Linked DNA regions of Homo sapiens. The protein of the gene in region 3 interacts with the protein of the main gene of each other region in a biochemical or structural test. Each region holds a gene or a part of one and is shown on either strand. Other genes may lie near its edges.

Evidence for each region.
Region 1: of the proteins of NTMT1 (region 3) and DDB2, one has a biochemical effect on the other in vitro, tested with the Homo sapiens proteins (one study listed by BioGRID).
Region 2: the proteins of NTMT1 (region 3) and RCC1 interact in a biophysical measurement, tested with the Homo sapiens proteins (one study listed by BioGRID and IntAct).

What each region holds. Positions count from the first base shown.
Region 1 is NC_000011.10:47,217,620-47,225,252, reverse strand, and holds part of DDB2 (DNA damage-binding protein 2), read right to left. Parts: intron 1-7,633.
Region 2 is NC_000001.11:28,508,732-28,516,364, forward strand, and holds part of RCC1 (regulator of chromosome condensation), read left to right. Parts: exon of another isoform or gene 1-31; intron 32-98; 5' UTR 99-174; exon of another isoform or gene 175-2,161; intron 2,162-7,633. UniProt on the Homo sapiens protein: Guanine-nucleotide releasing factor that promotes the exchange of Ran-bound GDP by GTP, and thereby plays an important role in RAN-mediated functions in nuclear import and mitosis.
Region 3 is NC_000009.12:129,629,163-129,636,795, forward strand, and holds the end of NTMT1 (N-terminal Xaa-Pro-Lys N-methyltransferase 1), read left to right. Parts: intron 1-3,487; 5' UTR 3,488-3,541; coding exon 3,542-3,703; intron 3,704-4,891; coding exon 4,892-5,144; intron 5,145-5,442; exon of another isoform or gene 5,443-6,045; coding exon 6,046-6,302; 3' UTR 6,303-6,973; downstream 6,974-7,633. UniProt on the Homo sapiens protein: Distributive alpha-N-methyltransferase that methylates the N-terminus of target proteins containing the N-terminal motif [Ala/Gly/Pro/Ser]-Pro-Lys when the initiator Met is cleaved.

The DNA.
Region 1 (7,633 bases), on a different chromosome or scaffold from region 3:
AGACACAGGATCGGGCCAGGAGCAGTGTCTCAAGCCTGTAATCCCAGCACTTTGGGAGGCCAAGGTGGGTGGATAACTTGAGGTTAGGAGTCTGAGACCAGCCTGGCCAATATGGTGAAACTTGGTCTCTACTAAAAATACAAAAATTAGCTGGGCGTGGTGGTGCACACTTGTAATCCCAGCTACTCAGGAGGCTGAGGCAGAAGGGTCGCTTGAACCTGGGAGGTGGAGGTTGCAGTGAGCTGAGATCTCATGCCAGTGCACTCCAGCCTGGAAGAGAGAGTGAGACCTCATCTCAAAAAAGAAAGAAGAGGAAATAATAAATATGAGGAGAGAAATGGAAGACATGAAAAAAAATCCAAATTAAACTTCTAGAGGGGATATACAGTATCTGAAATGAAAAATACGCTGGGCTACTTTGCCTATGGAGCAGCCCTGCTCTGCACAGGCAAGAAAGAGAAGAGAAAAGGAAGAGGAAGAGAAGAGAGAGAAAGGAACGAAGGGAGGGAGGGAGGGAGGGATTGACAGCAGAAGGTTAGATATTACAGAAGTAAAGATCAGTGAACAACTGCACAAAATGAAACAGGGAAAAAGACAAAAATGAACAGTGCATCAACCACCTGCAGGACCATATGTAATCGCAGTCCCAAGAAAAAAAGAACTGTTCTTTTTCTTCATTTTGAACTCTTTGTAAGAAATAATGGGCTGGGCAAGGTGGCTCACGCCTGTAATCCCAGCACTTCAGGAGGCCAAGGTGGGCGGATCACTGGAGGTCAGGAGTTCAAGACCAGCCTGGCCAACATGGTGAAACCCTGTCTCTACTAAAAAAATAAAATAAAAATAAATAAATACAAAAATTAGCCAGGTGAGGTGGTGGGCACCTGTAATCCCAGCTACTCGGGAGGCTGAGGCAGGGAGAATCGCTTGAACCCTGGAGGTGGAGGTTGCAGTGAGCCGAGATTGTGGCACTGCACACCAGCCTGGGCGACAGAGTGAGACTTTGTCTCAAAAGAAAAAAAAAATCCATAAATCAAAGAAGCTTAGTGATCCCCCCACAAGCACATCATAATCATTTTTAAAGCGACCAGAAGAAAAATTACATAGACAGGAACATAAGGATAGTAGCAGACTTCTCATCAGGATGTTTTGTTTTGTTTTGTTTTTAATTGAGACAGGATCTTGCTCTGTCACCCAGGCTTGCCTAGCTCACTGAAGCCTTGTCCCCCTGGGCTTAAGCAATTCTCCCACCTCAGCCTCCTGAACAGCTGGAACTACAAGTTCAAGCCACTAGCTAATTTTTAAGATTTTTTTGTAGAGATGGGGTCTTGCTGTGTTTCCTAGGCTGGTCTTAAAGTCCTGGCCTCAAGAGGTCCCCCAGCCTCAGCCTCTCAAAGTGTTGAGATTACAGGCATGAACCATTGAGCCCAACTAGAAATCATCTTTATTTTTATTCTTTATTTATTTATTTATTTTAGACGGAGTCTTGCTCTGTCACCCAGGCTGGAGTGAAGTGGCCGATCTCGGCTCACTGCCAGCTCTGCCTCCTGGGTTCACACCATTCTCCTGCCTCAGCCTCCCAAGTAGCTGGGACTACAGGCGCCCACCACCACGCCTGGCTAATTTTTTTTGTATTTTTAGAACAGACAGGGTTTCACCGTGTTAGCCAGGGTGGTCTCAATCTCTTGATCTCGTGATCCGCCTGCCTCGGCCTCCCAAAGCGCTGGGATTACAGGTGTCAGCCACCGCGCCCAGCCTTATTTATTTATTTTTGAGACACAGTCTTGCTCTGTCACCCAGAATGGAGTGCAGTGACACCATCTCGGCTCACTGCAACCTCTGCCTCCCAGGTTCAAGATTCTCATGCCTCAGCCTCCCGGGTAGCTGGGATTACTGGTGAGCGCCACCACACCCAGCTAATTTTTGTATTTTTAGTAGAGGCGGGGTTTCACCATGTTAGCCAGGCTGGTCTAAAACTCATGATCGCAAATGATCCACTTGCCTTGGCCCCCCAAAATGCTGGGATTACAGGCGTAAGCCACAGCGCCCAGCCTAGACATCATCTTTAAAGTACTGACAGGAGAAAACTGTGAACAAATATATTGTATGCAATAAAATACAATTTTAATTTACCAATTAAAAAATAAAAGTTAAATAATTTTAAAAACTGTGAACCTAGAATTCTATACTTAGCAAAAACATCCTCCCTCAAAATAAAGGCAAAATACTTTTCTAGATAAACAACAGTGGAAAGTATTTATCACCAATCTGCATTATAAGAAATATGAAAGGAATTTCTTCAGGCAGAAAGAAAATATTACCAAAAGGAAATCTGGATCACATGAAAGAATGAAAGCACTGGAAATGACAATATGTGGGCAAATAGAAAAACCTTTTCTCATTTAAAAAGTATCTTTAAAACATTCCTACTCTATAATCCAGCCATTCCACTGCTAAGTATTTACCCAAGAAAAATGAAAACATATATCCACACAAATACTTGTACGTGAATGTTCACAGTCGCTTTATATGTTGCATTCAAAAACTAGAAAAAAATTCAAATGTCCTTGAACAGGTAAATGAATAAACTGTATCATATCAGTACAATGTGGCTGGGTGCAGGGGCTCACGCCTATAATCCCGGCACTTTGGGAGGCTAAGGCAGGAGGATAGCTTGAGGCCAGGAGTTTGAAACCAGCCTGTGCAACACAGTGAGACCTCTGTCTCTATAACAAAATTTTAAAATTAGCCAGGTATGGTGGCCTGTGCATGTAGTGCCAGCTACTCAGGAGGCTGAGGTGGGAGAATCGCTTGAGCTGAGGAGGTTGAGGCTATGCTGAACCATGATCATCCCTGGGTGACACAGCAAGACCCTGTCTTAAAACAAAAAACAATGAACCATTATTCAGAAAGAAAAAAAAAACTACACATAAAAATGTAGATAAATTTCAAATAATTATACTGAAACAAGCTAGAACAAAAATAAAAGACCATATATTCTATGATTCTATTTATATATAGTTCTAGAAAATGTAAATTAATTTCTAAAAATAAAAAATAGATCAGCAGTTTACAGTGAATAAGATATTGGGTAGAGAGGGGTGGATTACAAAGGGGCATAGATAACTCATCTATCTATCACTCTCCAAATATTCAACAAAGGGTGGGGAAATGGGAGTTATTTTAATTGTGGTGATGGCTTCACAGTTGTACACATATGTCAAAACTCATGGAATTGTACAATTTATTCTTTTTTTCTTACTGCTTCTCTGGAGTAGGACTACCCCATAGGCTGAGAATAGCCAAATTGTACACTTGAAATAGCTGCAGTTTATGTCCACTATACCTCAATAAAGATATAATTTTAAAAACCCAGGCCGGGTGCAGTGGCTCGTGCCTGTAATCCCAGCATTTTGGGAGGCCGAGGCGGGCGGATCACTTGAGGTCAGGAGTTCGAGACCAGCCTGGCCAATATGGTGAAACCCTGTTTCTACCAAAAATATAAAATTCAGGCTGGGCACGGTGGCTCACACCTGTAATGCCAGCACTTTGGGAGGCCAAGGCAGGTGGATCACCTTAGGCCAGGAGTTCAAGACGAGCCTGGCCAACACGGTGAAACCCCGTCTCTACTAAAAATACAAAAATTAGCTGGGCATGGTGGTAGGCTCCTGTAATCCCAGCTACTCAGGAGGCTGAGGCAGGAGAATCATTTCAACTCAGGAGGCAGAGGTTGCAGTGGGCCGAGATCGTGCTACTGCACTCCAGCCTGGGCAATAGAGTGAAACTCTGTCTTAAAAAAACAAAACAAAACAAAAATTAGCTGGTGTGGTGGTGCATGCCTGTAATCCCAGCTACTCGGGAGGCTGAGGAAGGAGAATAGCTTGAACCCAGGAGGCGGAGGTTGCAGTGAGGTGAGATCGCACCACTGCACTCCAGCCTGAGCGACAGAGCAAGACTCAGACTTGGAAAAAAAAAAAAATAGTGTACACATGCACAGAGGGATGCTGAAAATGGGGATTTTGGATCATATTTAATTTATTTTTTACACTTTTCTCTGTATTTTATGATAAGAATACACTGTTTTGTTTTTTGAGAGATGGAGTCTCACTGTGTCGCCCAGGCTGGAGTGCAGTGGCACCATCTCAGCTCACTGCAACCTCCACCTCCCAGGTTCAAGTGATTCTCCTGCCTCAGATTCCTGAGTAGCTGGAACTACAGACGTGCACCACTACTCCCGGCTAATTTTTGTATTTTTAGTAGAGACAGGGTTTCACTATGTGTTGGTCAGGCTGGTCTCGGAACTCCTGACCTCAGGTGATCCACCCGCCTCGGCCTCCCAAAGTGCTGGGATTACAGGCGTGGGCCACTGCGCCTGGCCCCATACATTGTTTTTATAATAGGAATAAAATTAAGCTATCTTCATTGTGAAACTGTAATACATGTTCCCTTGCCAAGGGCCTGAAGAATGTAAAGGTCACAGCCAAGGTCAGATGACTAAAGAAGTGACAAAATGAGGCACTGTTGCTCCTCCAGTAACTGGTCTCAAATCAGCATTCTGCTGTCAGCATCTGGGAGTAAAACCAGACAGGTCTCTTCCAGACTGCCATACCCTTCCTCTGCTCCAACCTAGCTCCCTGCAAATGCAAGCCACAAAATTCAATGCCTAGACCAATCTTCATTACAGTGTAAAGAAAGTTTACACTGTAAAGAAGGTTACACGCATGTCATAAGGTGATGCAACAAAGAAAAAAAGCAATCTCAGTCTGGCACAAGTTCAAAGCACTTGTCATTATCCTGTTAGTCAGGAAGCTCTTCCCCTAGAATACCCTACACTGCTTCTTCCCATCTCCAGGCATAAGCTAAATTCCTCTATTCCCATGTCCTAGACTCCTGGAGAAAACAAGAAAACAAATTTCTTCCTGTCTGAGCTCTGGGTTCTGACTTCAACTTCAAGCTGCCTTATTAGCGGTCACCTGCCTCTTTAGCTGGGCAGGAAACCTACCCCACTCTGTCCGCGGCACTCCTCTGACTGCCTTTCTGGGGGCTTCTGGCACTTGTTCCTTGAACACCCATCTCACACTTTGAATTCCAGTCTCCCACACCTGTCTAACCTGGCCTTTTCTGGTGGTCTGCTCTCCAAATCCCTCCACTTAAGAGACCTCCTGCTGGCTGGGTGCAGTGGCTCACGCCTGTAATCCCAGCACTTTGGGAGGTCGAGGCGGGCGGATCACGAGGTCAGGAGATCGAGACCATCATGGCTAACACGGTGAAACCCCATCTCCACTAAAAAATATAAAAAAAGTAGCCGGGTGTGGTGGCGGGCACCAGTAGTCCCAGCTACTTCGGAGGCTGAGGCAGGAGAATCGCGTGAACCTGGGAGGCGGAGCTTGCAGTGAGCCGAGATTGCGCCACTGCACTCCAGCCTGGGCGGCGGAGTGAGACTCCATCTCAAAAAAATAAACAAATAAATAAATAAAGAGACCTCCTCCTGGGTTCCCCCTCATGTCTACCTTTAAACCAGAGCTAGAAAAATAGTGGACTGAAGCAGAATTCGGCTGAGACGTGTGTTTAGTTTCATTCAGTGCCAATATTAAGACGTTCTAGAGGCCCAGCACAGTGGCTCAGCCCTGTAATCCCGAGCAATTTGGGAAGACAAGACAGAAGGATTGCTTGAGGCCAGTAGTTTGAGACCAGCCTGGGCAATATAGAGAGACCACATCTCTAAAAATTAGCCAGGCATGGTGGTGCGTACCTGTAGTCCCTGATACATGGGAGGCTGAAGCCGGAGGATTCCTTGAGTCAGGAAGGTGGAGGCTGCAGTGAGCTATGGTTGTGTCACTGCACTCCAGCCTGGGTGACAGAATGAGACTCAAAAAATAAAAATAAAAAAAAATAATGAAGTTCTGGAGACTGCTTACACAATTTACCCAACGCCATTGAACTGTGCACTTTAAAATGGTTACGAAAGTAAATTTCATGTTATATGTATTTTATCATTATTTTTTAAAAAGTTGGCTGGGGGCGGTGGCTCACGCCTGTAATCCCAGCACTTTGGGAGGCCGAGGCAGGCAGATCACAAGGTCAGGAGATAGAGACCATCGTGGCTAACACGGTGAAACCCCATCTCTACTAAAAATACAAAAATTAGCCAGGCGTGGCAGCATGCACCTGCAGTCCCAGCTGCTGGGGAGGCTGAGGCAGGAGAATGGCATGAATCCGGGAGGCGGAGCTTGCAGTGAGCCAAGATTGCGCCACTGCACTCCAGCCTGGGTGACAGAGCGAGAGTCCGCCTCAAAAAAAAAACACTTTTAAATGGTTAAGGTGATACATTTTATGTTACGTGTATTTTACAATTTTTTTTAAAACTCAAGATATATGACATTTAAAAAATGAGGATTTGTGTCTTTGTTTGAGAAAAATCACATCTGATATCAAAAGACCTACATTTTTGCACAACAGTCATCTCTAGTTTACCCCTGACCCTACCACCATACATTCTTTTTTTTTTTTTTTCCACTCTGGCTTCTGGAGCCCTATAAGTTTGTGACTCCTGCTCTAAACCCAGTGTCACTTTTCACAGCACAGCCCTCCAATGTCAGCCACCAGCTGGGCTGGCTAAAGGTCCTAGAGGGGACGACACACTCACCCCTCAGCAATGGATGATAAACTCTAGCACAACAAAGACCATTCCCAAGAACTCTGTGCCAAACCTCACCCAGTCACACTATGTCTTTCCTTCTTTTCTCTCCATTTATCTAATACTGCTCCTCCTCGCTCATCCATGGAGTCTTCTTTATTGACTCCAATTCACAAGGGGTTCTTCCTTCTTTCACATTCTGTAGCACTTGGCATCTGTATTGTTAATTACCTCGTATGTATACATCCCATCTGCTCAATTACACTTCAAGCCCCTCACTCATTCAACAAATATAAAGCAGCTACTCTAGGCCAAACTTTGTTCCAGGCACTGGGAATAGGATGGTGAACCAGAAAGGAAAGGTCCCTGCCATCAGTGGGCAAACATACAAATAAGCATCAGATCTCAGACACCCATCAACACTTGGGGGAAACATGAAGCAGGGTAATGATACAGGGAATGACGGTGGAGGAGTGGGATCTACGTTATGAGTAAGGACAACCAGCGAAAGCCTCTTTGAAGAGGTAGAATCAGCAAAGACCTGCAGAGAAGACGCCAGCCATGAGAAGACCATGGGGGAAAAGCACTCCAGTCAAAGGGAACAGCAATTACAGAGACCCGGTTTCAGGAATAGAAACAGCTGGTGTGGCTACAGCATAGAAGTGAGAAAAGACAATGGCGTAAGATGAGGTCAATGTGGTAAGAAGGGGCTTCAATTCTTTTTTTTTGAGATGGAGTCTCGCTCTGTTGCCCAGGCTGGAGTGCAGTGGCGTGATTTCGGCTCACTGCAACCTTCGCCTCCCGGGTTCAAGCGATTCTCCTGCCTCAGTGTCCCAAGTAGCTGGGACTACAGGCGCACACCACCACATCCAGCTAATTTTTTGTATCTTTAGTAGAGACGGGGTTTCACCATGTTGGCCAGGATGGTCTCCATCTCTTGACCTCGTGGTCAGCCCACCTTGGCCTCCCAAAGTGCTAGGATTACAGGCCTGAGCCACT
Region 2 (7,633 bases), on a different chromosome or scaffold from region 3:
ACTGGGGAGACAAACCATGCAGGAAACATATCTAGTATACTAGATTTTAAGTTGAAGTAGGATCTTCAGGAGTCTAATCATTATTTCTTTTCTTTTAGGAGAGAAGACGATCTGCACTTCGCATTTTGGCATTGACATTTAATTTTAGGGTCCTTTATATAGAAGGGAGAGTAGGTAAACTGATTTTTTTTTTTAACAGGGAGGGTTTGACAATCTTTGGCAGACTTGGAGCAAAAGATTGAGGTGCATTTCATGCCTCCTTTTGAGAGTCTTGCTCTGTCGCCCAGGCTGTAGTGCAGTGGCGCAATCTTGGCTGCAACCTCAGCCTCCCAAGTAGCTGGGATTACAAACATAAGCCACCACGCCCAGCCCTCATACCTCTTTTAAAAGTCGACCTGTTTTGCAGAAAGTCTGCTGTTTTTGTACTAAAGGCTTTGGAATTTGGCATTTAGCTAGGAATGCACATTCTTTCACCTCATTCATACTTTAAGAACCACAGAAGTGACTCTGCTTGGCCAGAAGGCACACTGTGTTGGTGGTTATATTAAAAGTCCTTGAGTATTTTGCTTTTCATGATCTTGCTCACTGCAACTTCCGCCTCCCAGGTTCAGGCGATTCTCCTGCCTCAGCCTCCCAAGTAGCTGCGACTACAGGCGTGTAGCACCACACCTGGCTAATTTTTGTATTTTTAGTAGAGATGAGGTTTCACCATATTGGCCAGGCTGTTCTCAACTCCTGACCTCGTGATCCGCCCACCTCAGCCTCCTAAAGTGCTGGGATTACAGCTGTGAGCCACCCTGCCCGGCCACTTTTGTATGATTTCTAATGTATTTGTAATTTACCTAACAAATTGCCTAATCTGCTATGTTAATGTATTTATGAATTAAAATAAATACGACTGCATGTTTGTGGTTCATTTTTGTGGAGGTGGCTGTGGTGACATCAGCCAAGAATCTGAATGGTACTGTTGAAGGAAACTAGCATGATAGCTTCAGTTCTAAAGGCCCTGAAACCTAGTCTCAGGTGGGTCCCCCTTGGGTTCACTTTATATTGGCAGTTTATTGGGAAAATGGATATTAGGTCCTGACCAATAGGACCGTAAGTCTGGGTTGAGTGCAAGATGAGTTAGACCGATTCTTTAGCTTCCTGCAGTGTAGTGGAGGAAAAATCGATGGTAGCAACGGGAGGTTGTATCCCTAGCTGATGAGTTGTATGAGCCTCTACTACCTGGCGCACCTCCGCCTGAAGATTGCCAGAATTGCTTGCCTCATGACGTGAGTCACAATGGAAACTTTGTCAAGCCCCCTGCACTGGCTGCCAACATAAATGTTCAGTACCCTGAAGGATGGGACTGAAGGGGGATCATCTAGAAGGTAAAGTTACCTACTGGCATAGGGGAGGTGGGACAGCCGTTAAGCCATTTGGAACTTGATGGAGACAGGTTTGAGGGAGGTGGGTGAGATTGGAGTTTGGTGGACTGTAGAGCTTGCTTGCCAAGGTGTTGAGGTCAGGGTTGGTTTGAGAATGGAAGCTAGTTACTAGCTATGATTGTGGGGGAACACAGCTTGATTTTTCTTACAAGCTAAGAGGAGTGAGGCAGTGTTTAAGAGGGCATGTTAAATGCAGCCAGGCTTGGTGGCTCACACCCGTAATCCCAGCACTTAGGCTAAGGCAGGCGGATCACAACATCTAGAGATCCTGGCCAACGCGGTGAAACCCTGTCTGTACTAAAAATACAAAATAACTGGGCATGGTGGTGTGCACCTGTGGGAGGCTGAGGCAGAATTGCTGGAACCCGGGAGATGGAGGTTGTACTGAGCTGAGACCTTGCCACTGCGCTCCAGCCTGGTGACAGAGTTAAGTCTCAAAAAAAAGGCATCTTCCTAAAGCAATTGTATTTGTGCTTACCTGTGCCAGGCACTGTTCTAGGTAAGCACTAAGTGGGCTTTAATACAGCATATTCCAATGGGGAATCCCAGGAACCAAAAGACTAATTGTCCAAGTCCACAACTAGAAGTGGCACCTCTGCAGAAACAAGCATCAAATTCCCTGCTCAGGAAGAAGCCAGATGAGTCAGCCCCATTCGTCTGTATGCCCAGTCCCATCCGTGTCCTGCTGTAACTACATAGATCTCACCTGAGTAAAGTGATTTTTTTCTGAACCAGTGGTTTTAGTATGTTTTCAATCCATATACTCAGGTGGGTTTGGGTAACTGCAGTGCTGGGCAGGAAATGAATGAATTTCTATTGACTTGCAAGGTAGAGGTGAAGCAAAGCTGTCAGTAGGTGTTCAGGTCCCACTCTGCTAAACTTCAGCTTGCAATACCCCTTTTTTAGACTTTCCAAACAGGCACTTCTGGCCTTGTTCTTTGTGTAGGCAGACAGTATTGGTTGCCTATCTTAGGAGTACTAGACTGGGTTTGAATCCTGATCCCACCACTTGCTGTTCATGAGACTTTGGGTGAGTTACTCAGCCCCTCTGCCTCAATTTCATGTTCACAAAATAAGTGATAAACTACCTCATAGAGTTGTAATAAGGACAAAGGAGTTGGTATTTGTGAAAAGATTCTTAGGGTCTCTAGATGGAGTGCAGCAGCATGATCACTTATTAAATAACATTCTTTTGTGACTTCTCAGAAACCAAGGATACAGTATCCAATTTTTTGTTTTTTGTTTTTTTTTTTTTTTGAGAGGGAGTCTCGCTCTGTCGCCCAGGCTGGAGTGCAGTGGCACAATCTCAGCTCACTGCAAGCTCAGCCTCCCCAGCAGCTGGGACTACAGGTGCACGCCGCCACACCCGGCTAATTTTTTTGTATTTTTAGTAGAGAAGGGGTTTCACCATGTTAGCCAGGAAGGTCTCCATCTCCTGACCTCGTGATCCGCCCACCTCGGCCTCCCAAAGTGCTGGGTTTACAGGCGTCAGCCACCATGCCCAGCTTTTTTTTTTTTGAGATCTAATCTCACTCTGTCTCCAGGAGGGAGTGCAATGGAGCCATCTTGGCTTGCTGCAACCTCCACCTCCCGGGTTCCAGCAATTCTCCCACCTCAGCCTCCCAAGTAGCTGGGATTACAGGCGCACGCCACCATGCCCGGCTAATTTTTTTTGCATTTTTTAGTAGAGACGGGTTTCACCATGTTAGCCAGGCTGGTCTCGAACTCCTGACCTCAAGTGATCCACCTGCCTCAGCATCCCAAAGTGTTGGGATTACAGGCGTAAGCCACTGCGCCTAGCCTCAAGCCTGATCCTTTTTTTTTTTTTTTTTTTTGAGATGGAGTCTTTGCCTCCCAGGCTGGAGTGCAGTGGCGTGATCTCAGCTCACTGCTACCTCTGCTTCCTGGGTTCAAGCGATTCTCCTGCCTCAACCTCCCAAGTAGCTGGGATTACAAGCGCCTGCACCGCACCCGGCTAATTTTTGTGTTTTTTTTTTCAGTAGAGACAGGGTTTCGCCATGTTGGCCAGGCTGGTCTCAAAACTCCTGACCTCAGGTGATCCACCACGCCCGGCAGAGCCTTGATCTCTTAACCACTATCCTCACCTCCCCTTTCCCTAAGGATCCACAATGGCCTCACTGGCTCTTGAAGGCAGGCTGGCACCTTGATCATTCTTCCTGGTCATTAGTATTCTGATCTGGTTATTTTCCATTTTATGTCCATCTAACCTACTTGGAGGATCCTCAAGAGACTGCATATGTAAACTCAGTACTTATTCTTGTACTGTGCCTGCCATATAGCAAGCACTGGCTGATTTAATTTTTCTGTGTTCTTTTTTATTGATTTGTTTTTATCTTTATTATTTTCTTTGCTTATTTTGGGGTTAGTTTGCTCATCTATTCCTAGTTTCTTAAGCTAGTAGCTGAGCTCATTGATTGGAGACCTTTCTTTTTTTCTAATGTAGGCATTTAGTGCTATAAATTTCCTCCAGATACTGTTAACAACACACAAATTCTGGTATGTTTTGTTTTCATTTTAATTCATTTCAAAATATTTTTGAGTTCCTTTTCTATTCTTTGATCTATGGGCTACTTGAAAGTGTATTATTGTTGTTGTATTAGTGTTGTTCAAATCTATCCTTGCTAGTTTCTTTTTTTTTGGAGACTGCGTCTCCAAAGGCTGGAGTGCAGTGGCACAATCTTGGCTCACTGCAAGCTCCGCCTCCTGGGTTCACACCATTCTCCTGCCTCAGCGTCCCCAGCAGCTGGGACTACAGGTGCCTGCCACCATGCCCTGCTAATTTTTTGTAGAGATGGGGTTTCACCATGGTCTCAATCTCCTGACCTTGTGATCCACCCGCCTCGGCCTCCCAAAGTGCTGGGATTACAGGTGTGAGCCACCGCGCCCAGCCTCTTTTTTTTTTTTAGACAAGAGTCTCACTCTGTTGCCAAAGCCAGAGTGCAGTGGCACAATCTCAGCTCACTGCAACTTCTGCCTCCGGAGTAGCTGGAATTACAGTCACGCACCACCACGCCCAGCTAATTTTTTTGTATTTTTAGTAGAGATGGGGTTTGCGCGGCTGAAGTGCAGTGATGCGATCTCAGCTCACTGCAACCTCTGCCTCCCAGGTTCAAGCAATTTTCATGCCTCAGCCTCTGGAGCAGCTGGTACTACAGCATGCACCACCATGCCTGGCTAATTTTTTTGTATTTTAGTAGAGATGGGGTTTCACCATGTTGCCCAGGCTGGTCTCAAACTCCTGAGCTCAGGCAGTCCGCCTGCCCTGACCTCCCAAAGTGCTAGAATTACAGGCATGAGCCACCGTGCCTGGCCTTATTTTAAAATTTTATTTCTTGTAGGTAACATGTTGGGTTTTTCAGTATGACAGTCTATGTCTTTTAATTGGAGTGTTTAGGCTATTTACTTTTTTTTTTTAAGACAGGGTCTCACTCTGTCACCCAGGCCAGAGTTCAGTGGCAAGATTATGACTCACTGCAGCCTTAAACTGGAACTCCTGGGCTCAAGCCATCCTCCCAGCTCGGTCTCCTGAGTAGTGAAGACCACAGGCATGTGCCACTATGGCTGGCTAAATTTTGTATTTTTTGTAGAGACAAGGTCTCATGATGTTGTCCCAGCTGGTCTTGACCTCCAGGGCTCAAGCAATCCTCCCACCTTGGCCTCCCAAAGTGCTAGGAATACAGGCATGAGTCACCATGCCCAGCCATATTATACATTTTTAACTTACAATAGTCCACATTCAATTGATATTAAACCAGTTCACTTGTAGTATAAGAATCTTCCCCAGCCTGGCCAATATGGTGAAACCCCGCCTCTACTAAAAATACAAAAAAAAAAAAATTAGCCAGGTGTGGTGGTGCTCGCCTGTAGTCTCAGCTACTTGGGAGGCTGAGGCAGAAGATTGCTTGAACCTGGAAGCAGAGGTTGCAGTGAGCTGAGATCGTGCCAGCCTAGGCAACAGAGCAAGACTCCGTCTCAAAAAAAAAAAAGGCGGGGCCCGGTGGCTCACGCCTGTTATCCCAGCATTTTGGGAGGCCGAGGCGGGCGGATCACGAGATCAGGAGATCAAGACCGTCTTGGCTAACACGGTGAAACCCCATCTCTACTAAAAATACAAAAAATTAGCCGGGCGTGGTGGCGGGTGCCTGTAGTCCCAGCTACTAGGGAGGCTGAGGCAGGAGAATGGCATGAACCCAGGAGGTGGAGCTTGCAGTGAGCCAAGATCGCGCCACTGCACTCCAGCCTGGGCGACAGAGCGAGACTCCGTCTCAAAAAAAAAACAAAAAAAAAACCTTCTGGCGGCCTGGTGTGGTGGCTCACACTTGTAATCCCAGCACTTTGGGAGGCTGAGACTGGCGGATCACCTGAGGTCGGGAGTACAAGACCAGCCTGACCAACATGGAGAAACCCCGTCTCTACTAAAAATACAAAATTAGCCGGGCATGGTGGCACATGCCTATAATCCCAGCAACTCGGGATGCTGAGGCAGGAGAATTGCTTGAACCTGGGAGGCAGAGGTTGCAGTGAGCCGAGATCATGCCATTGCACTCCAGCCTGGGCAACAAGAGCAAAACTCCATCTCAAAAAAAAAAAACAATCTTCCGGCTGGGCACAGTGGCTCACGCCTGTAATCCATCCCAGCACTTTGGGAAGCCAAGGCAGGCAGATCACGAGGTCAGAGCGAGACTCCGTCTCGAAAAAATAAATAAATATTTCTTCCATTTCTCACTATATAGTCTTTGATATTGTCATGTGTCTTACTTTTATATATGTTATAAAACCCACAGTACATTATTACAGCCAGAACCTCCATATCAGCCAGTTGCGATGGCTCACTCCTGTAATTCCAACACTTTGGGATGCCAAGGCAGGCTGACTGCTGAGGCTCAGAAGTTCAAGACCAGCCTGGCCAACATAGTGAAACCCTGTCTCTACCAAAAATACAAAAATTAGATGGGCAATTAGCTGGACGTGGTGGTGCACGCCTGTAATCCCAGCTACTCGGGAGGCTGAAACAGGAGAATTGCTTGAACCCAGGAGGCAGAGATTGCAGTGAACTGAGATCACGCCATTACACTCCAGCCTAGGCAACAGAGTGAGACTCCGTCTCAAAAAAAAAAATTAGCTGGGCATGGTGGTGCACATCTGTGGTCCCAGCTACTCGGGAGGCTGAGGCAGAGGTTGCAGTGAGCCGAGATCCTGCCACTGCACTCCAGCCTGGATGACAGAGTGAGACTCTTGAGACAAACAACTGGGGCTGGGCGCAGTAGTTCACACGTGTAATCCCAGCACTTTGGGAGGCCGAGATGGGTGGATCACTTGAGGTCAAGAGCTCAAGACCGGCCTGGCCAACATGGTGAAACCCTGTCTCTATTAAAAATACAAAAATGAGCCGGGCATGGTGGTGCGTGTCTGTAATCCCAGCTACTCTGGAGACTGAGGCAGGAAAATTGCTTGAACCCAGGGGGCAGAGGTTGCAGTGAGCCGAGATTGCACCACTGCACTCCAGCCTGGGCAACAGAATGAGACTCCATCTCAAAATAAAATAAAAAATACAAATACAAAACTAAAAAAATAAAAATAAAGGCCAGGTGCAGTTGCTCATGCCTGTAATCCCAGCACTTTGGGAGGCCAAGATGGGCAGGTCACCTGAGGTCGGGAGTTCCAGACCAGCCTGGCAAAAATGGTGAAACCCGGTCTCTACTAAAAATACACAAAATGGCCAGGCGCGGTGGCTCACGCCTGTAATCCCAGCACTTTGGTAGGCTGAGGCGGGTGGATCACCTGACGTTTAGGAGTTCAAGTCCAGGCTGGCCAACATGGTAAAACCCCGTCTCTACTAAAAATACAAAAATTAGCTGGGCATGGTGGCAGGCGCCTGTAATCCCAGCTACTCAGGAGGCTGAAGCAGGAGAATTGCTTGAACCCAGGAGGAAGAGGTTGCAGTGAGCTGAAATCGTGCCATTGCACTCTAGCCTGGGCGGGTCAGGAGTTCGAGATCAGCCTGGCCAACATGGAGAAACCCCATCTCTACTAAAAGTACAAAAATTAAGGCTGGGCGCGGAGGCTCACGCCTGTAAGCCCAGCACTTTGGGAGGATGAGGTGGGTGGCTCATGAGATCAGGAATTCAAGACCAGCCTGGCCAAGATGGTGAAACCCTGTCTCTACTAAAAATACAAAAATT
Region 3 (7,633 bases):
CCGTCCTCTCTTGAGTGACTGATGGAGGGCTGTGACATGGTTGCTCCGGTACCTGCTGGCAGAGGGGCAGGCAGCCCACCTAACCTGGTCCTTACGCCATCAGACCATAGCAGCCACCAAACCCAGCTACATGGTGACATTCAGATTGGTGGCCCTTTTTCCTGTCAGCTACCCGGGCACATCTAGCAGTCTTGAGGATTGGCAGGTCTGGTGGGAAGAAGAATTCATTCTTCTTCTTCTTTTTTTGACACAATGTCTCACTCTGTTGCCCAGGCTGGAATGCAGAGGCAGGATCATGGCTCACTGCAGCCTTGACCTCCCAGGCTCAAGTGATCCTCCCACCTCAGTCTCCCTAGTAGCTACTAGAATGTGTGTATTTTTGACAGAGATGGGGTTTCTGAGCCGTGGGCTTCTTTCTCCTTCCGGCAGTGTTGTTCCCAGTGCTGGGACACCAGTGTGGGAGCTTTGTGGTCAGCTTGCGGGGAGGGTGTTATGTGCAATATTTAGAACTAAGGTCCTCCCCAGCCTGTTACCCCAAAGGGCTCCCTGATTGGTGAAGTGACTGCTGCCTTTCTTCATTGTGGCTGAAACCCTTGTGCGTGAACAGTAAAGTGAGGGGTCAGTCTGCGAGCGGATTCAAGAATCTGAAGAGGGAAGCCAGGTGCAGTGGCGTGCGCCTGTAATCTCAGCTACTTGGGAGGCTGAGCAGGGAGGATGGCTTGAGCCCAGGAGTTTGGGGCCAGCCTGGGCCACATAGTAAGACCCCATCTCAAAAAAACAAGAATCTGAAGAGAAGTTTAAGCAGGCTTCTCTCTAGGCACAGCCAAAGGATTCTGCTAAGGGTGAGAAGACCCAATCACGGATCTAAGAAGAACCCCGTTGCATCTGTTAGAAGTATTCTTGAGCTGGCTGGGCGGGGTGGGCCTACTGCTTCTGGAAAGTTCCTTCTCTTTCAGGACAGGTTCAGAATATAGTAGTGCAGAATATAGTTCTGGGGCCAGTAACAAATTTGACCAATGAAAAATCTTGGCTGGGTGCAGTGGTTTCTGCCTGTAATCCCAACACCTTGGGAGGCTGAGGCAGGTGGATTGCTTGCAGCCAGGTGTTTGAGACCAGCCTGGGCAACGTGGCAAAACTCCATATCTACAGAAAATACAAAAGTTAGCCAGGTGTGGCGGTATGTGCCTGCAGTCCCAGCTACCCTGGAGGCTGAGATGGGAGGATCACCTGAGCTGTACTCAAGTCTGGCGACAGTGAGACCCTTTCTAAAAAAAAAGAAGAAAAAATTCTCCAGCTTGTCTTGTGTTTAGTTTCCCTTCTCTTTCCTCATAGTTGCTTCCCAAAGGCCTCGTGCTCCTTCTCAGGGCATTTTCCCGTTTCCCTCTGACCACTTCTCTTGAAGCCCCTAGAGTGTTCCTGGGTCTTAAGCTTTGAGTTGTGTTTGAGGACTGTACCCGAGTTCCATATGTGGACTCTTCCGTGTTGACCCTGTAGCTCCAGGAGTCAGGCAGACGGTCTTGGACCTACGATTTGTCAACTTTGGCGACAGGCATTTGCTAGAAGCCCCCTGCTCTCCTCGTGTGGAGGCAGCACGTGCGAGGCGGTGAGCTGCAGCTCCCAGTCAGCTGCGCGTTTTCCACCGAGGGTATTTTCCCTTTACCATGGGTTTATCAGGATGTAGCAGCTGCTGCTGCTGGGATTCCTACCACCCACTGTTGCTGTGTGTCCTCAGCACGGCCACTGCCATTCTCACTCTGCCTCCTTTAGGTTAGGCCTTGGCAGTGTGGGAAACACATCAGCCGAGAGTTGGTGCCCAGCATGCACTCGAGGCCACCCTCATCCAGGCCCCGTCTGCCTTTCCGAGCTCACCTTCCACAGTCTTCCCCCGCTCCACTCTCCGCCCTCTGATGGCCCATGCTGTCCCACGGCTGCTCCCTCTGTCTGCCCCACCCCCTCCAGCACTCCCTGTGCTTGGCTGCCCAGCTCGGGCTGCCTCCTCCAGGCGGCTGCCCCTATCTGCTGTTGGGAGGAGATTCCTCTGCCCTTTGAGTGTCCTCGACACTTTGTGGGTCCATGAGAATCCTTATTTTTCTGCTGTGTATTTTCTTTCCCTTTGTTCTTTGTCCTCCTGGACTAGAGCTCTCTGAGGTCTTGGCAAGCCTCACAGCAACTAGAACAGCCCCTAAGCGTGGTGTGCCTTGGTGACAGCACTGTGCCTTGGGAAGCTTATGGCAGAATGGCCACCCGTGGAGCACGGAGCCGCCCAACTGTCATCGCTGTCCTGAAGGGTGAGGTGGGCCTGGGCTCTGCTGCCAGGACCCAGCTGAGGCTTTCTAGTTCTCTCTCCTTCTACCGTGGCAACCGTCTCCTCATCCCCCTGCCATCTCCACCGCCGCCAGCAGTCTTCAGAAGCATCGGTCTTCCCGGGCCACTCTCTGTTGGGCCTCAGGGTGGTTGACTCATTGCTCTGTAGGATGCAGTCGAAACTGCTAGAGTTGACTGTGAGACCAGGAACTGGCAGCCGCGAGGGCTGTCTGTCCTTCCCTCCAGGAGCAGTGCCGTCGCCCTCCACCTACTGCGCTTATTCTTGCCCATCCATCGGTTTCAGCTTACGCGTCCCCTCCTCAGGGATGCCTTCCCTGGTCCCCGCACCCGACTCCACTTCCTCCCTCCGTGCTCTGCTGGCACTGGCGCTTCTCCTCTGCAGCCCTCCCTGCAGGTGTGGTTGTGTCTGTAGAATTGTTTTCTGCCTGGCTGGCTGCCTGGTTCACAGCCCGGTGCCTGGCACAGAGTCCCCACTCCTTGTTAACGGAGGACTGGACCCCACCGTGAGTTGTTGCTGTGCTCTGAGCCAGAGGAAGGGAGGCGTGGAAGCTTCCCTGGCCCTCCAGGGTCTGCTGGTGCTCTCGGCTTTGCGGTCGTTTCTCTTTATTGATCAGGGTTTTCTGTGCCCTGAAGCCACTGAGTCAGGTGTCATATAGAGCATATCAAGAACTTGAAGCCAGGCCAGGCACATGGGCTCACACCCGTAATCCCAGCACTTTGGGAGGCCAAGGTGGGAGAATCTCTTGAGGTCAGGACTTCAAGACCAACCTTTGTAACATAGTGAGACCCCATCTCTACAAAAAATAATTAGCCAGGCATGGTGGCACACAACTGTAGTCCTAGCTGCTCCGGAGGGTGAGGTGGGAGGGTCTCTTGAGCTCGGGAGTTGGAGGCTGCATTGAGCTATGATCACACCACTGCACTCCAGAAAAAATAAAAATGTAAAAGAACTTGAAGCCAGGACTTGGGGCGGGTGCTCTGAGTGCAAAAGACAGAAGATGCTGTTATCCAAGGGGTAGAAGCAGATTTGGGGACCCTGGACTTCTCTCTGCACTCAGCAGGATGTGTGACTTGTGAAGCCTGGTGTGAGACTGGCCCTCTGCCCTGGGGGCCTTTCTGCCAGGTCCCTGGCCCGCTGACTCACGCCCCCTTCCTTACCCAGGAGAGTCGCGGTTGCTGATCGTGGTGCTTGAGTAGAGCCGTGGTTGGTGACAGCATGACGAGCGAGGTGATAGAAGACGAGAAGCAATTCTATTCCAAGGCCAAGACCTACTGGAAACAAATCCCACCCACGGTGGACGGCATGCTTGGGGGGTATGGCCACATCTCCAGCATCGACATCAACAGCTCCCGGAAGTTTCTGCAGAGGTTTTTGAGGGTAGGCAGGTCTGGCGTGCTCTCCAGGAGAGGCTGTGGCTCTGGTGGCACTGCCGAGTCCATGTGGGGTGCCACCTTTTACACATGTAACACTGCAGGATTGTTGGCTATCTCTTGGTACCTACCCCAAAGCCTTGAGGAGCTGGGCTGGGTGGGCACAGTGGGGTAACTTCTAGATTGTGGACTTAGCCTCAGGGTTACCAGACAGGAGCTGGCTGTTAGGCAGAATTGAGGTGCCTGAATTGGGCAAACCTCTCTTCAACTGTTGGGTTTTGCCAGGGACGAAACCCTTGCTCTCCTGCCATGTCCACGGGTGTTTGGACTGAGGGTGTTGGCTATTCTGGACGAAGACTCCTAGTTATGTGCCATGGTTTCCACCCTCTGCTCCACCCCCAGCCTTTTCTGTACCAGGCTGGGACCCCCAGTCCTGGAGCCCCCCACCTTCTTGTCTCATGGCTGGCACTGGAGGCTGCTGTTGGCCACCTGCTCCATCCAGCGCCTCCCCTCCCTCCATGTTCCCTCTCTGCACCCTTGTTCACCTGTTGCCCCGCTTCCATTCTCCCCATTCCTCTCTGCCGTTGTTTACCTGGAGACTCAGGAGAGATTAGTGCACCTGTTCAAGTTATCACCTTTAAGTGGAAATTAGCTTTCATTTAGAAATGTGTGGCCCAGGGCAGGGGCAGTGGCTCACTCCTGTCATCCCAGCCCCTTGGGATGCCAAGGTGAGAGGATTGCTTGAGCCCAGGAGTTTGAGACCAGCCTGGGCAACAGACCGAGGCCCCGTCTCTACAAAAAATACAAAAAAAAAAAAATGAGTTGGGCATGGTGGCGCATGCCTGTAGTCCCAGCTACTTGGGAGGCTGAGGTGGGAAGATGGAGGATGGCTTGAGCCCAGGAGTTCGAGGCTACAGTGAGCCATGATCCCACCACTGCATTCCAACCTGAACAGAATGCAGAATGCAACCTGAACTTTCAAAGATAAAGGAATGTGTGGCCCAGCAGTGTGTCCTCCCATGCTCATCCCCTCGACTCCGTACAAGCTGGCAGCCAGCACAGACCTCCCCACCAGTGCTCAGCTTGTGCGGAGTCCTGGAATCCTGACTTGAGTCTAAGTCCTAGGGCTCGTGAGGAAGGGCCGCACGTGCGGTGACAGGGTCCCTCTGATAGGTTATATGCCTCTGCTTTTCAGGAAGGCCCGAACAAGACAGGAACGTCCTGTGCCCTGGACTGTGGAGCTGGCATTGGGAGGATCACCAAGCGGCTGCTCCTGCCGCTGTTCAGAGAGGTGGATATGGTCGACATAACGGAGGACTTCCTGGTTCAAGCCAAGACCTACCTGGGGGAGGAGGGCAAGAGGGTGAGGAACTACTTCTGTTGTGGGCTCCAGGACTTCACCCCGGAGCCGGACTCTTACGACGTGATCTGGATCCAGTGGGTGATAGGTGAGGGTTCCACCGCCCTTCCCTGCTCACCTGTATGTCTCCTGCCACTCGCGTTCCCCATAAGGTGTCAGGACCAGGGCTTTGCACTCCTGCAGCAAGTGGGCCAGTGAGGATTCCCCACCCCGCCCAGGCCCACCCCCACCCCGTACTTCCCAGGACTGAGGGACAGGCTCGGCCTAAAAGGTAGATTTCTTCCTTCTAGGTTTTGTTTCAGTTGAATACCTGCTACCATCCATTTGGGTGCAGTTTTTTGTTGAAAAAATTTTAATGGCCAATAACTTACTGCATTCAAAGTGAGGAGTTTTATAAGGGTTTTATTTTTAATAAGATGAATAGTTTAAGCTTCGTGTCTAGCCCTGCACCCTCTTAGCCTAACAGCACACCTCGAGCGCTGTGCCCTGGGCTGCTGACGTGGCGGCAGGCCGCTAGCAGCAGTCGGCCACCTCCTGAGGCGGGCAGCACAGGCCTGCTGTGGACACTCTAGGTCTGGCCTTGTATTTTGTGGTCTCAGAAGCCTTTGTGGGGACTTCTAGTGTAGGGAAGGCAGTCTCTCTGGGAGCTCCTGCAATGCCAAACTCTTAGCCCAGGTTCACTCCTCCGATCCAAGCCTGGCAGGGGTGGGGCATCATGGTGTGTAGGTATCAGGCAGGACTTGTAAGCCATCCCGTCAAGTCAAATTCTGGCTTAATGTGTCTTTAGGTAGATGACCTCTGAGCCACAGTTTCCTATTCTATGAATTGGGGTTTAGTAAATCTCTCGGGACTGAGAGCCAATGAGGCCATGTGTGCACACAAAATGCTGGGCACAAATGAGGGGCTCAGCGGGGCTGAGAAGTACATCCCATCCAGTGCCGACATCCGCTTGCATGGTGCCCTGGTAACCTTGCCTCTGCCCTCCCCAGGCCACCTCACCGATCAGCACCTGGCCGAGTTCCTGCGGCGCTGCAAGGGCAGCCTCCGCCCCAACGGCATCATCGTCATCAAAGACAACATGGCCCAGGAGGGCGTGATTCTGGACGACGTGGACAGCAGCGTGTGCCGGGACCTTGACGTGGTCCGCAGGATCATCTGCAGTGCAGGCCTCAGCCTCCTGGCCGAGGAGAGGCAGGAGAACCTCCCCGATGAGATCTACCATGTCTATAGCTTTGCCCTGAGATGAGCCGGGGCTGGCAGGAGAAACTGAGGAACCACAGTCCTGGTGGGGGGAGCTGGCAGCTGGGCAAGATCCAGGCGCCACGCTGGCGGTTCGTGAGTGTCGAGGCACCACTAAATATAGCTGTCTGCCGTCCACTCATTATGCGGGCTCTTCTTCAAAAGGCAAGGTGGGACCCGGCGGGGAGGGTGCTGCTGAACCAGCGGTGAGGCAGGAGCCCAGACCCTGCTCTCCTGCGAGATGGGATTGGGTGGAAGGGGCTCCAGGGCTCCTGGTGCTCCCCATGTGGGAATAGGGTGGCCACATCAGTAACCGATTCCCTGGGCCTCCAGCCCGGCCTTCCAGCCATGGGCCTGGCTGCCTGAAGAGGAAGGAAACCACCCCCAACTTGGTTGCTGGGGACTTGAAGACTTCAGTGTGATCTTTACCTAGGGGAGGGACAGAGCTGGGCTGGTGGAGCCCATGGGTGCTGCCTGATGGTGCTGTGGGGTGGGTGCTCATGTGCCAAGTCCTGCTTGGCAGTGGAGACCTGGGGCCCTTAAAGTGTTACAACAGCCTGCAGCAAGGGAAGTTCCCCGTAGCCTCAGTCTTCTCTGGGCTTGAGGCTGCTCCTTGGCAGGCATTTAAAGTAAAAAATAAAATGGGGCTGGGCGCGGTGGCTCACGCCTGTAATCCCAGCACTTTGGGAGGCCGAGGCGGGCAGATCACGAGGTCAGGAGATTGAGACCATCCTGGCTAACAGGTGAAACCCCGTCTCTACTTAAAATACAAAAAAAAAAAAAATTAGCCAGGCGTGATGGCGGGCGCCTGTAGTCCCAGCTACTCAGGAGGCTGAGGCAGGAGAATGGGGTGAGCCCGGGAGGCAGAGCTTGCAGTGAGGTGAGATTGCGCCACTGCACTCCAGCCTAGGTGACAGAGCGAGACTCTGTCTCAAAATAAAACTAAAATAAAATGGGGGCCGGGCACAGTGGCTCATGTCTGTAATCCCAGCACTTTGAAAGGCCGAGGCAGGCGAATCACCTGAGGTCAGGAGTTTGAGACCAGCCTGACCAACATGGCGAAACCCCGTCTCTACTAAAAATACAAAAATCAGCCAGGCATGGTGGTGGGCACCTATAATGCCAGCTACTCAGGAGGCTGAGGCAGGAGAACTGCTTGAACCTGGGAGGCAGAGGTCGCAGTGAGCCGAGATTGCACCATTGCACTCCAGCCTGGGTGACAGAGTGTCTCGAAAAAAAAAAATAATAAAATGGGACCTCCACACTGTGGAGGCCCTTGCCAGTCTAGAGTGGTGCTTCTTTGCAGGGACTTGGAAACAACCCCCCAAACACAGCATC